Linked DNA regions of Homo sapiens: region 1 is linked to region 2. The links come from fine-mapping of genetic effects on gene expression. A gene starts in region 2. The other region holds a variant in brackets. All regions are shown on one strand. Distances are between the middles of the regions.

Region 1 (5,358 bases), 88 kb before region 2:
GCCTCACTGGTCCAGGATAGCGACCCCCGTGTGCTGGCCTCACTGGCCTGGGATAGAGACCACCGTGTGCTGGCCTCACTGGTCCAGGATAGAGACCACTGTGTGCTGGCCTCACTGGTCCGGGATAGAGACCCCCGTGTGCTGGCCTCACTGGTCCGGGATAGAGACCCCCGTGTGCTGGCCTTAGTGGCCTCGCTAGCCCCCCTGGGACCAGGGGTCCCCTGAGGCAGGTGGCAGGGCAAGGTCCTCCACAGCCTCCACCTCAGGGAGATAGGGCTAAGTCCCCTGGCGTATGTGAGCATGTGTGTGTCTGGGAGCAAACGTGTCCACATGAGTGCACACCAAGGTGACCCCCTGCCCCTCTCCACACCCTGTGACTAGCTCAGAGGGGAGGTCATCCCAGCTCTGTCTTCCTGGCAAACCCTAGACTCGCCCAGAACTGGGCAGGTCCCCCACTGAATTTTGACCCCAGGCTGCCCGATGACCAGGGTTCCGATGCCTCCACTCCCCTTGGGGTCAGGCCTGGGCATAGAAGGATCTGGCCTGTAGCAGCGGCCACTGTGGGTTGTCATAGGGTGATTGGGTGCAGGGAGACCCCAGGTTCGGTGTCTCCTCCGTCAGATGGGGAGAGCACCTCTCCTGGCAACTGGGTGGTGGATGAAGCTAGCCGGGTGGGCCTGGGCAGGCCTGTGTCCCACAGAGCCATGTCTGACGGGGGCCACATGTGGAAAGGCCCAGATGTGGCAGTGGAGGACTGGGGTGTGGGGTCCGGAGCTAGGAGAGCTTCTGTGCCCAGGACTTGTTTGGAGCCCATGCCAGCCCAGGGGAGGCCTCCGGGCCCCTGGACCAGGCCTTGCTCACCCTTGAAGTCCAGGGGGCCTCTGAGCCCAGCAGGGCCGGAGGGTGGCACATGGGGCTCGTCCTGGGGCCATGGGTGGGGAAGGCTGTGCCCCGATCAGATGCACCCCTGGAGCTCCTAGAAGGACCAAGGAGGTGGAGGGGCCGGACCTCCGGGCCGGGATGTTGTGGGTGGGGGCGGGTGGGGGTGAGCAGAGGATTCACGTGGCCAGGCAGGTTCTGAGCACCTACTGGGTGCCGGGCCGCAAAGCAGGAGGAGGTGCCCCCACAAACAAGAGGAAGCTGCAGCGTCGGTTTCCCAGGGTGCCCTGGCCCTTTGCCCAGTGGGGGTTTCCCTGGCTGCTCAGAGCCTTCCCAGAGGTCAGGCCAAGCCCAGCTCTCCCGAAGCCACCCCAGGGGCCATGGAGACGTCCCCTCCTTCCCAGAGGAGGTTCCCTGCCCGGCCTCGTGGGGGCATTGGACGCCTCAGAGAGGCGCAGAGGCTGGCCCAGCGCACACAACGAGGCAGCAGCAGTGCAGGGCCAGTCCCAGCTTCCACCAGGGCCCTCGCGAGGCCAAGAACTAGACCGTGAGTCCCCACTGAGCCCTGCTGCAGGCGGGGAACAGGCTGGGCGGTGAGGGGACCGATGTGCGGCAAGGGCCCTGAGGAGGCCAAGCACACGCCCGCCTCAGCCTCTGAGGAAGCCTCTCCACACTCTGCTAGGTGCTGGTAGGTGCCCAGGACCATGGAGGCAGCTCCATCTCCCCACCCCTGGGGGACCCTGGAGCCCCAGCCCCAGCCCCAGCCTGGCAGACAGCAGTGTGGCCCACAGGCTCCTTCCCCAGCACCACTGTGTGCCAGGAGCAGGGCAGCCTCCTGCGGTCCTGGGGCTCCGGGCACAGGGGCTGGTCTGGGGCTCCGGGCGCAGGGGCTGTGTGATCTGGGGCTCCGAGTGCAGGGGGCTGTGTGGTCTGGGGCTCCGGGTGCAGGGGGCTGTGTGGGCTGGGGCTCCGGGTGCAGGGGCTGGTCTGGGGCTCTGGGTTCAGGGGGCTGTGTGGTCTGGGGTTCCAGGCGCAGGGGCTGGTCTGGGGCTCCGGGTGCAGGGGGCTGGTCTGGGGTTCCGGGTGCAGGGGCTGTGTGGTCTGGGGCTCTGGGTGCAGGGAGCTGGCTGGTCTGGGGACGGGAGTGGACTCCGGTGGCAAAGGGCCTGCCTGCAAGGTGGAGGGTTGGACAAGTGTGCAGTTTTCCTTCATTTTCCTTTTCTGTCTTGACGAAGAGCCGGCGTTTTCTTGCTGCCGGGACAGACGCTGCCTTCATGACTCACGTGGCGGGGTCCTCGGCCTCCAGTTGGCCCATCTCACTTCTGTCCCCATCCTTGGTGTGTGGGGGGCGGGGACCCTCCCTCCTCCCCAACCCTGGAGGGCGGGGTGTTCCGCAGCTCCCTTCCCCAGCTCCCTCCAAGCCTGCTTGGCCAGGCTCCATGGCAACTGAGGCTGTACATCCAGGAATTCTCCCCCCCCCAGAGGGGCGGGCCAGCTCCATCCCTCCATCACCTCCCGTGGGGCGCTGGGATTGAGGGGCTGCCAGGCCCCTGGAGCTAGGGTGGGGGCTGAGGAGGGGCGGCAGCCAGCCCCAGGCCTGATGTAATTACTGCTAACAAAGTCTCCCTGGGGGTCTGGCTAAGGAGGGGGCCTGTGGGACAGGGAAGGACAGGCCCGGAGTCATTGTGGGGCCCCAGGGGTCCGTTTTCTCAGCCTTGACAAACAGCTCTGACAACGGAGCGCTTGAGCCTGGGCACTGGCCTCGGAGGGCTGGGAGAGGAGGTAGAGGCTGGGGCTCCGTTGCCGGCTCCACCCCAGGGGTACCCTTGAGACTGTCAGCTCTGGTGGTGAGCCCTGTCCTGGCTGCACTTGAGGCAAACAGTGAGGCCGC[A/G]GCCTGTCCTCCTGCCTCAGCCTGGGGAAGGCTGGGCCGGGCCAAAGAGGGAGGCCAAGTCCTTGGGACAGGAGGAGACCCACACCTGAGATTAGTGGAAACCCAGCCAGAAGCTGCCATGCAGGTGTGGCTCTGGGCATCAGGATCTGTCGTGAGAGCCCCCATGAGTGCCCAGTGCAGAATGGCTGGCAGCCCGCCCTGACGGGGAGCAGAGGGGCTGGACGCGGTGCCCTTCACGGGATGACACCCAGCTGTTTGCCCTGTGTCCAGGGGGTTGCTTCTCTGACAGAGGCCCTATGGCTCGTGTCTGACTCCTGTCCAGGTTCTGCCAGCCTGACCATCCATCGCTCTGGCACCAAGAGCCCACCCTTTTGTTCTTCCTGGCGTCCCAGGGAAAGCCCTGCCTGGGTGGGGCAGCTCCTGGCCCTTCAGATGGAAGACGCAGTCCAGTCAGCACCATCATAGGAAACAAGTTCAGAAATGTCTCACTTACTATTCCGGGCAGGGAGGGCGCCATGAGTCAGGGGGTGCATCCTCCCTCCTGGCGTCACCCGAGGCAGGAATGAAGAGTCAGGCAGAGAGCGCGCGTGTGGCAGCTGGTGGTGTAGATATTAGGGACTAGTGTGAATTCTAGTTCACCGGCCAATGCCTGGATGGTCCAGAGCTGGGTCGGCTGGGCGGAGAGCTGCCTCCAGGTTCCTGCCTCTGGCCCTGGCGTGGGGTCGACACTGGGTGTGGTGTGTGTCTCATGTCCAGGCAGTGGCCTTTGCTGTGCCGTCCTGTTACAGGAGCCAGGATGGTGGGGACGGGACCGGACCGGAGGGTTGGCGGGGCTGCCCCTGCAGCCGACAGCCCCATCCTGCAGCCACCAATGGCATGACCCAGGGCCCCGGCACTGCCTGTGTGAGGGGCTGGCAGCTTTCCAACTGCAGCAAGTGGAGGCCCCTGCCAGCTTCGGGCCTGTGGGCAGGGGCTCAGTGGGGCAGGGGTGTGGCTGCCCCGCCCGGCACGCCTGCACCTGTCTCCTCAGTGTGACCAGTACCGCAAGGGGATCATCTCGGGCTCCGTCTGCCAGGACCTGTGTGAGCTGCATATGGTGGAGTGGAGGACCTGCCTCTCGGTGGCCCCGGGCCAGCAGGTATAGCCACTGGCAGGGCGGGTGGGCCTGGGGCTGATACTGCCCGTGCAGTGGGAGGGGGATGTCTGCACGGAGGACCTCTGTGGCCCTGTCCAGGTGTACAGCGGGCTCTGGCGGGACAAGGATGTAACCATCAAGTGTGGCATTGAGGAGACCCTCGACTCCAAGGCCCGGTCGGATGCGGCCCCCCGGCGGGAGCTGGTACTGTTTGACAAGCCCACCCGGGGCACCTCCATCAAGGAATTCCGGGAGATGACCCTCAGCTTCCTCAAGGTCAGGCAGCTCTCCTAGGGGGCAGGGCAGGAGTCCACACCACGGTCATATGCCCAGCAGGCGGCCCTGGCACCAACATGCCCAGCGCAAAGGCACAGATGGGCCCAAGTGGACCCTGGGCAGACCTCCCATCCCCCAGCCCCTGGGCATGAGCCCTGCCAGGGAAGGAGCCTCTCCAGGGCTGGGGGCAAGGGTTGGGGGCGCCGGTGGGCTGGCAGCTGAGGTCGAGGGGAGGCTCCTGCAGTCAAGGGCCGTGTGTCCAGCAGGGCAGGTGCCCCGAATGGAGACCAGGGCTTGTGGAAAGGGGCCGCTTCCCAGGGCTTCAGCCAGTGCGTGCCCTCTGCCCTGTGCCGATTCTCATCCTCAGGGAAGCTCTGAGGCTTCTCTGCCCAGGTGCCCACCCCCGAGCTCCCCAGGTGCACCCAAGGCTGCCAGGAGGCGGGAGGTCTGTCTGGCAGCAGCCACACAGGCCAGCAGAGTGAGCTGACACATTGCTGGCTGCGTCCTCCACCCGTGTAGCTGTGGGCTGGGACCCCTAACCTGGCAGATGTGCTGGTCTGGCCGGCAGACCACCCCGCCAGGAGGACCAGGTAAAGGCCAGGTCGTGCTCCCAGACATCAAATCAGCTGGCTTTTCCTTTCTTTTGGTCCCAAACGCCAGGCGAACCTGGGAGACCTGCCTTCCCTGCCGGCGCTGGTTGGCCAGGTCCTGCTCATGGCTGACTTCAACAAGGACAACCGGGTGTCCCTGGCGGAAGCCAAGTCCGTGTGGGCCCTGCTGCAGCGTAACGAGTTCCTGCTGCTGCTGTCCCTGCAGGAGAAGGAGCACGCCTCCAGACTGCTGGGCTACTGTGGGGACCTCTACCTCACCGAGGGCGTGCCGCATGGCGCCTGGCACGCGGCCGCCCTTCCACCCCTGTTGCGCCCACTGCTGCCGCCTGCCCTGCAGGGTGCTCTCCAGCAGTGGCTGGGGCCTGCGTGGCCTTGGCGGGCCAAGATCGCCATCGGCCTGCTGGAGTTCGTGGAGGAGCTCTTCCACGGCTCTTACGGGACTTTCTACATGTGTGAGACCACACTGGCCAACGTGGGCTACACAGCCACCTACGACTTCAAGATGGCCGACCTGCAGCAGGTGGCACCCGAGGCCACCGTGCGCCGCTTCCTGCAGGGCCGCCGCT
Region 2 (5,358 bases):
AGTGACACAACGTCCTTCAGTGATGATCTCCTTATCTCTACATGGGGTTATCTACCCTCTCTGCCTGCCATTAGGGTCGTGTGCAATGACATCCACAAAGCGCTTCACCCCTGCTAAGTGTGGTGGTGCACACCTGTGGTCCCAGCTACTCAGGAAGCTGAGGTGGGAGGATCGCTTGAGTCTGGGAGGTTGAGGCTGCAGTGAGCTGTGATCACACTTGTGAATGAGCACAGAGAAAGTGCACTAGCGTCTAGGAGGGGCCCAGAAGAAACCAGTTCTGTGAAGCCCCCTCTGCCCACCATCCTGGCCCACACCTGCTTCTCTCTCCCCCGGACTGGCCAGGACATCACTAGCCGCTTCCTGGCCCAGAGGAACACGGAGGAGAACCTGGAGCTGCAGATGGAGGACTGTGAGGAGTGGCGGGTGCAGCTGAAGGCCCTGGTGAAGCAGCTGGAGCTGGAGGAGGCCGTGCTCAAGTTCCGCCAGAAGCCTAGCTCCATCAGGTGCCCCGGGCTTCCGGGGCTGCGGGCCACCCACCCCAGTCTCACAAAGGCCCCGGGCTGCAGCCAGGCTGGGAGCTGGGAGTATACCCACTGCCAACAAGCCTGTGTGTCCCACAGAGGGGCCAGGGGACTCCACTTGCACACACCTGAGCTTCTGAGTCCCTGATTCTGGCACAGCACCCAACTCAGGACTGGGCTCCTGGGTGGCCCACCATGGCTCTCGGGCCTGTGCCCCTCACTGCTGTGTCCCTATTGCCTTCTGCAGCTTCAAGTCCGTTGAGAAGAAAATGACAGACATGCTAAAAGAGGAAGAAGAGAGGCTCCAGCTGGCGCACAGCAACATGACCAAGGGCCAGGAGCTGCTGCTGACCATCCAGATGGGCATCGACAACCTCTATGTCCGGCTGATGGGCATTAACTTGCCTGCGACCCAGGTACCGGGAGTGAGGCTGAGCTGCCACACACCAGGTCCCTGGGCAGGGCCAGAGGGGAGATGAGACCCTCCTCCCGGCCTACAGAGAGAAGTGGTGCTCTCCAACACCCTCGATTTGAACAGCAAGCTGGCGTACTGCGAGGGGAAGCTCACGTACCTGGCTGACAGAGTGCAGATGGTGTCCAGGACCGAGGAGGTAGCCCCGGGCTGGGAGGAACCTGCACAGCCCACGTCCCCTCAAAGCTGACAGGCTCCCGTTCAGAGTGTCTGCACGGCTGAAGGGGGCTTTGCCCTGCAGGGCGACACAAAGGTGAGGGACACCCTGGAGTCCTCGACTCTGATGGAGAAGTACAACACCAGGATCAGCTTTGAGAACCGGGAGGAGGATATGATCGGTACAGGCCCCGGAACTGGGGCCCGGGCTGCAGGCGGGTGGCTGGAACACAGGTCGGGGTGGCGCCGGCTCCCATCCCACCGGGACATCCTGGAGGGACAGCGGGGCTACAGGGTGCATCAGTTGTACCTGCAGGACTTTAATTGATGGAGGTGACTTAGTGATGCCATGGGGAGGCTAAAGCCACTGAAATACCTTGTTAATTTCTCCGAAAGGAGGAGGCATGCCATGCCAGACGGGCCCGGAGGAGAGGCACCAGGGCTGGAGCAGGGAGGAGCGCGGTGAAGGCCTGGGCCGGAGCTTCCACTGGGGGTTCTGCGGGAAAGGCTAGGCAGGGCAGCGTGAGCCGCTGCGAATGGGCTGGGCTGAGTCCTCCCGGCACGCTGGGGCTGTCCCTGGGGCAAGGCACCTGGCCCGGGTCGGTGGAGGGCGGGGGCGAGAGGCGGGTCGGGCGGCTGCGCCTAGCTGGGCTAGCCCCGTGTGCGAGCCGCCGCCTCCGCCCGCAGACACCTTCCAGTTCCCCGACATGGACCACAGCTACGTCCCTTCGCGCGCCGAGATCAAGAGGCAGGCGCAGCGGCTAATCGAGGGGAAGCTCAAGGCGGCCAAGAAAAAGAAGAAGTAGCCCCGCCGCCCCGCTCCCTGCTTTGCTACACAAATAAACATTTTTCCAGGACTGCTGCGGACGCTGGGGCGACCGGGGTCTCGGAGAGGAGCACGGGACACGCAGGATCGGGGGAGGTTCTGCGTAAGGAGGCAGCCCGGGCCCGGAACTGCGCGCCAGAACCGCGTGCGCATGCGCCGACCGCGCGCGCCGCGCCCCCGCGGCCCTCGCGGCGCCCCGTAGCCGCGCACCCCTCCCGTCCCGCCGAGCCGGCGCCAAGATGGCGGCGCTGACTCCTGGAGAGCGGTCGCGCCGGAGGCCGCGGGGGCCGGAGCGGAGCAGCCGCGGCTGAGGTTCCCGAGTCGCCGCTCGGGGCTGCGCTCCGCCGCCGGGACCCCGGCCTCTGGCCGCGCCGGCTCCGGCCTCCGGGGGGGCCGGGGCCGCCGGGACATGGTGCCAGTCGCACCCCTTCCCCGCCGCCGCTGAGCTCGCCGGCCGCGCCCGGGCTGGGACGTCCGAGCGGGAAGATGTTTTCCGCCCTGAAGAAGCTGGTGGGGTCGGACCAGGCCCCGGGCCGGGACAAGAACATCCCCGCCGGGCTGCAGTCCATGAACCAGGCGTTGCAGAGGCGCTTCGCCAAGGGGGTGCAGTACAACAGTGAGTGCGGCGGGCCGGGGGGGCGCGGGAGCGCCGCGCGGGTCTCCGAACCCAGGCCCCGGGCGCCGCGCGGTGGTGGGTGTCGGTCTCACCTGCTTGCCGGTTGTGGGGTGCGCTGGGCCCGCCGGGCGCTCCGGGAGCGGGGGCGCGGGCCAGGGGACGCGAGGAGAGGCCAGGCCAGGGCCGGGTCCTCGCGGCCCCCGAGCCGCGGGTCGTTTCCCAGCCGCACTCGCCTGCCGCGTGTCGCTCCCGCCGCGCTGTGCAGTGGAGCGGGTCGGCGGCGGCGGGGTTGGCCCGGCTGCCCGGCCCGGGGGTGATTACATAATGCCAAGCAGGGCCCGCCGGCCCGGGGCGCCGCGCCCCCGACGCTCCACGGTGCCCAGCCCCGGGCACCACTCACCTGCAGGAGGTGCGGGGAACCCAGCCGGCCTTGGCGCTTTCAGCGGGATTTTTCTTTGTTGACTTCCTACTGAGTTTGAAGACAGAATATTAGCTACGCCACACATTCTCGCCTTTTTTTTTAAAAGAAGCGTTTGTAAGAGACGTATCTAGAAAAGCTCCAGAAGGCACGGGCTGACTTGCGACTGTAGGAGACATCCCATTTCTCGTAGGAAGGAGGAGTCATTTACGGACTCCTGAGTGCCTGGGACGCTCCATTCCTTTGTTATAAATTGTGTAAATTGTCCTCGACCTCTTATGAGTTTTTCCATCTTGCGGGCTCTTTCCCAGTAGTTTTTGAAAGCTTTTATGTGGTTCCCTGTTTTGACATTGCTTCCCTCTTAGCCATTTCCGTATGTTTCTATGAGGTTTTAGGACGCTACGCCTATCCAGTTTTTTGGTCACTTTAAGGGGAGCCTTAGAGCCTCCGTGATATTTCCATGGTAATGTAGAATTTTAAGAACTAATGATCAGAAAGACTCTTGTGCAGGTTTAAAAGCAAGTTCATGAATTCGCGTGCCGTGTGCACGGAGAGAGGCCGTAGTTCCTGGGGCTGGAGCTAGTCCAGGAGGACAGTGAAGATGTCGCCTTCCTTAGTCCCCCGGCCTGTGAGCAAGAGGAAGCTGCAGACCACTCGGGCCACCCTCACCCAGACACCTTTAGCAGTAAGCAAGATAAAACAACTTCTTAAAGATAAGTCTGAGCATCTAGGTATGAAAGTTGGTGTCCGGGCCGGGCACGGTGGCTCATGCCTGTAATCCCAGCACTTTGGGAGGCCAAGGCGGGCAGATCACGAGGTCAGGAATTCGAGACCAGCCTGGCCAACATAGTGAAACACCGTCTCTACTAAAAATACGAAAAAAAAATTTAAAAGAAAGTTGATGTCCGAACCAAGGGCCGTATTGGCTTTTCTTATACTCTAGAACATACGACGACAAAGAAGATTTTGATGAAGTTCAAATTAGAGTCAGCGTGCTCATCAGAAAGAAAGCGCAGCCAACACGTTTAGGAACAGAAACGGATTATGTTGAAGACAAACAATCCATTGCGTTTGTGTTCAGTAACCCAAGCATCAAAGGAACTTGTGGCTGGGGAGAAGGCTTGACTATTTGAAATCTCAGGACTCCTCTGTCCAGGAGCTCCCAGACTCCCGTGGAGTGGAAGCCTGGGGGCTCGCTGAAGAAGTCACGTGACTGGAACGTGCTTAATGCTTGGCTGTCTGGTAAGGAAAATAAAGTGGTGCATTTTGAATAAAAATAAAAGCTGATTTTAAATGTGTTATAATTGAAACTTTATACATAGCTGGCATTCGGAGAAGAGAATATTGAGTCAAAATAACTGAGTTTACGCCAGTTTTTAGACTCTGCGTTTGGATCCTTTATTTAATTTTATTGCTTACAGTATTGGCTAAGCTCAGTATTAGTCCCTGGGAAATCAGGCCTGGACCTGGAAACTGTTCACCTTCTGAAAAGGCTCCCCGAGGGTCCTGGGCAAGGTCCACCTCATGCACCAGGACCACCCCTGTGTGGTCCTGGGCGAGTGTGACTAAAAAGGGCAATGGGGTCCTTCCAGAGGAGAAAAGCCAGTCTCCAGTACTTGGAGAACAGGTTATGATCTCCTAGAACTGAATGAAAGGTGGTGAGACAGAGAGAAATTTGAATTTGTACCTAAATTACATTTTAGAAAGATGTTATCTTTATAGCTGAATAACATGCAATTTTAAAACTTTTGAGTTTCTGTGTTAGAATAGAAAGTTTCTAGTATTTCTTTTCTTTTCTTTTCTTTTTTGAGACAGAGTTTTGCGTTTTGCTGTGTCTCCCAGGCTGGAGTGCAGTGGCGTGATCTCAGCTCACTGCAAGCTCCTCCTCCCGGGTTCACACCATTCTCCTGCTTCAGCCTCCCGAGTAGCTGGGACTATAGGCACCGGCCACCACGCCCGGCTAATTTTTTGTATTTTTAGTAGAGGCAGGATTTCACCGTGTTAGCCAGGATGGTCTCAATCTCCTGACCTCGTGATCTGCCCGCCTCAGCCTCTCAAAGTGCTGGGATTACAGGCGTAAGCCACCATGCCCGGCTTTCTGGTATTTATTTTCTCAAATATTTTACAGAGCGTAACAGACCAGCAATGTGATCAAGACAGAGTCGAGGGTTTTGGGGGTGAGAGTTTCTGGGAACTGCTGCGGGTTTCCAGGAGTCTGGGCTCTCCTCCTGGGCCCTGCATTTGCTCGGAGTTGCTAGTGGTCCCGGTAGACGTGTGGGACACCCACTGGTTTTAGAATAAAAACTCGAATGAGACATTGGACCATAATGGATGAAAAAGTCAAACTCT

What was found. PIP is the estimated chance that this variant, and not a neighbour inherited with it, causes the effect.
Region 1: its variant is the best candidate, but not a certain one, in a credible set for the expression of CCDC183-AS1 in whole blood (TOPMed, PIP 0.56).

What each region holds. Positions count from the first base shown.
Region 1 is chr9:136,718,121-136,723,478 of GRCh38, forward strand. It overlaps DIPK1B (divergent protein kinase domain 1B), which reads left to right. Exons shown (of 5, transcript NM_152421.4): 3 at 3,801-3,908; 4 at 4,005-4,181; 5 at 4,842-5,358. LOC124900276 (cuticle collagen 2-like) reads right to left here. Exons shown (of 5, transcript XM_047424334.1): 5 at 1-5,358. The coding sequence starts at 2,155. The coding sequence ends at 1,220. Among named protein-coding and RNA genes, the nearest start is that of SNORA17B, 5.4 kb to the right of the region's middle. RefSeq lists an enhancer at 1,320-1,369. The variant A/G (reference allele first, on the strand shown) is at 2,771.
Region 2 is chr9:136,805,736-136,811,093 of GRCh38, forward strand. It overlaps CCDC183-AS1 (CCDC183 antisense RNA 1), which reads right to left and starts at 3,113. Exons shown (of 5, transcript NR_024580.1): 1 at 2,992-3,113; 2 at 1,094-1,467; 3 at 650-802; 4 at 315-393. CCDC183 (coiled-coil domain containing 183) reads left to right here. Exons shown (of 14, transcript NM_001039374.5): 10 at 343-503; 11 at 769-937; 12 at 1,022-1,132; 13 at 1,235-1,331; 14 at 1,837-2,006. The coding sequence ends at 1,955. RABL6 (RAB, member RAS oncogene family like 6) reads left to right here and starts at 2,213. Exons shown (of 15, transcript NM_024718.5): 1 at 2,213-2,591. The coding sequence starts at 2,462. It also overlaps the pseudogene LOC100422233. RefSeq lists enhancers at 1,157-1,752, 1,753-2,349 and silencers at 1,625-1,854, 2,055-2,224, 2,275-2,334, 2,355-2,484, 2,495-3,024.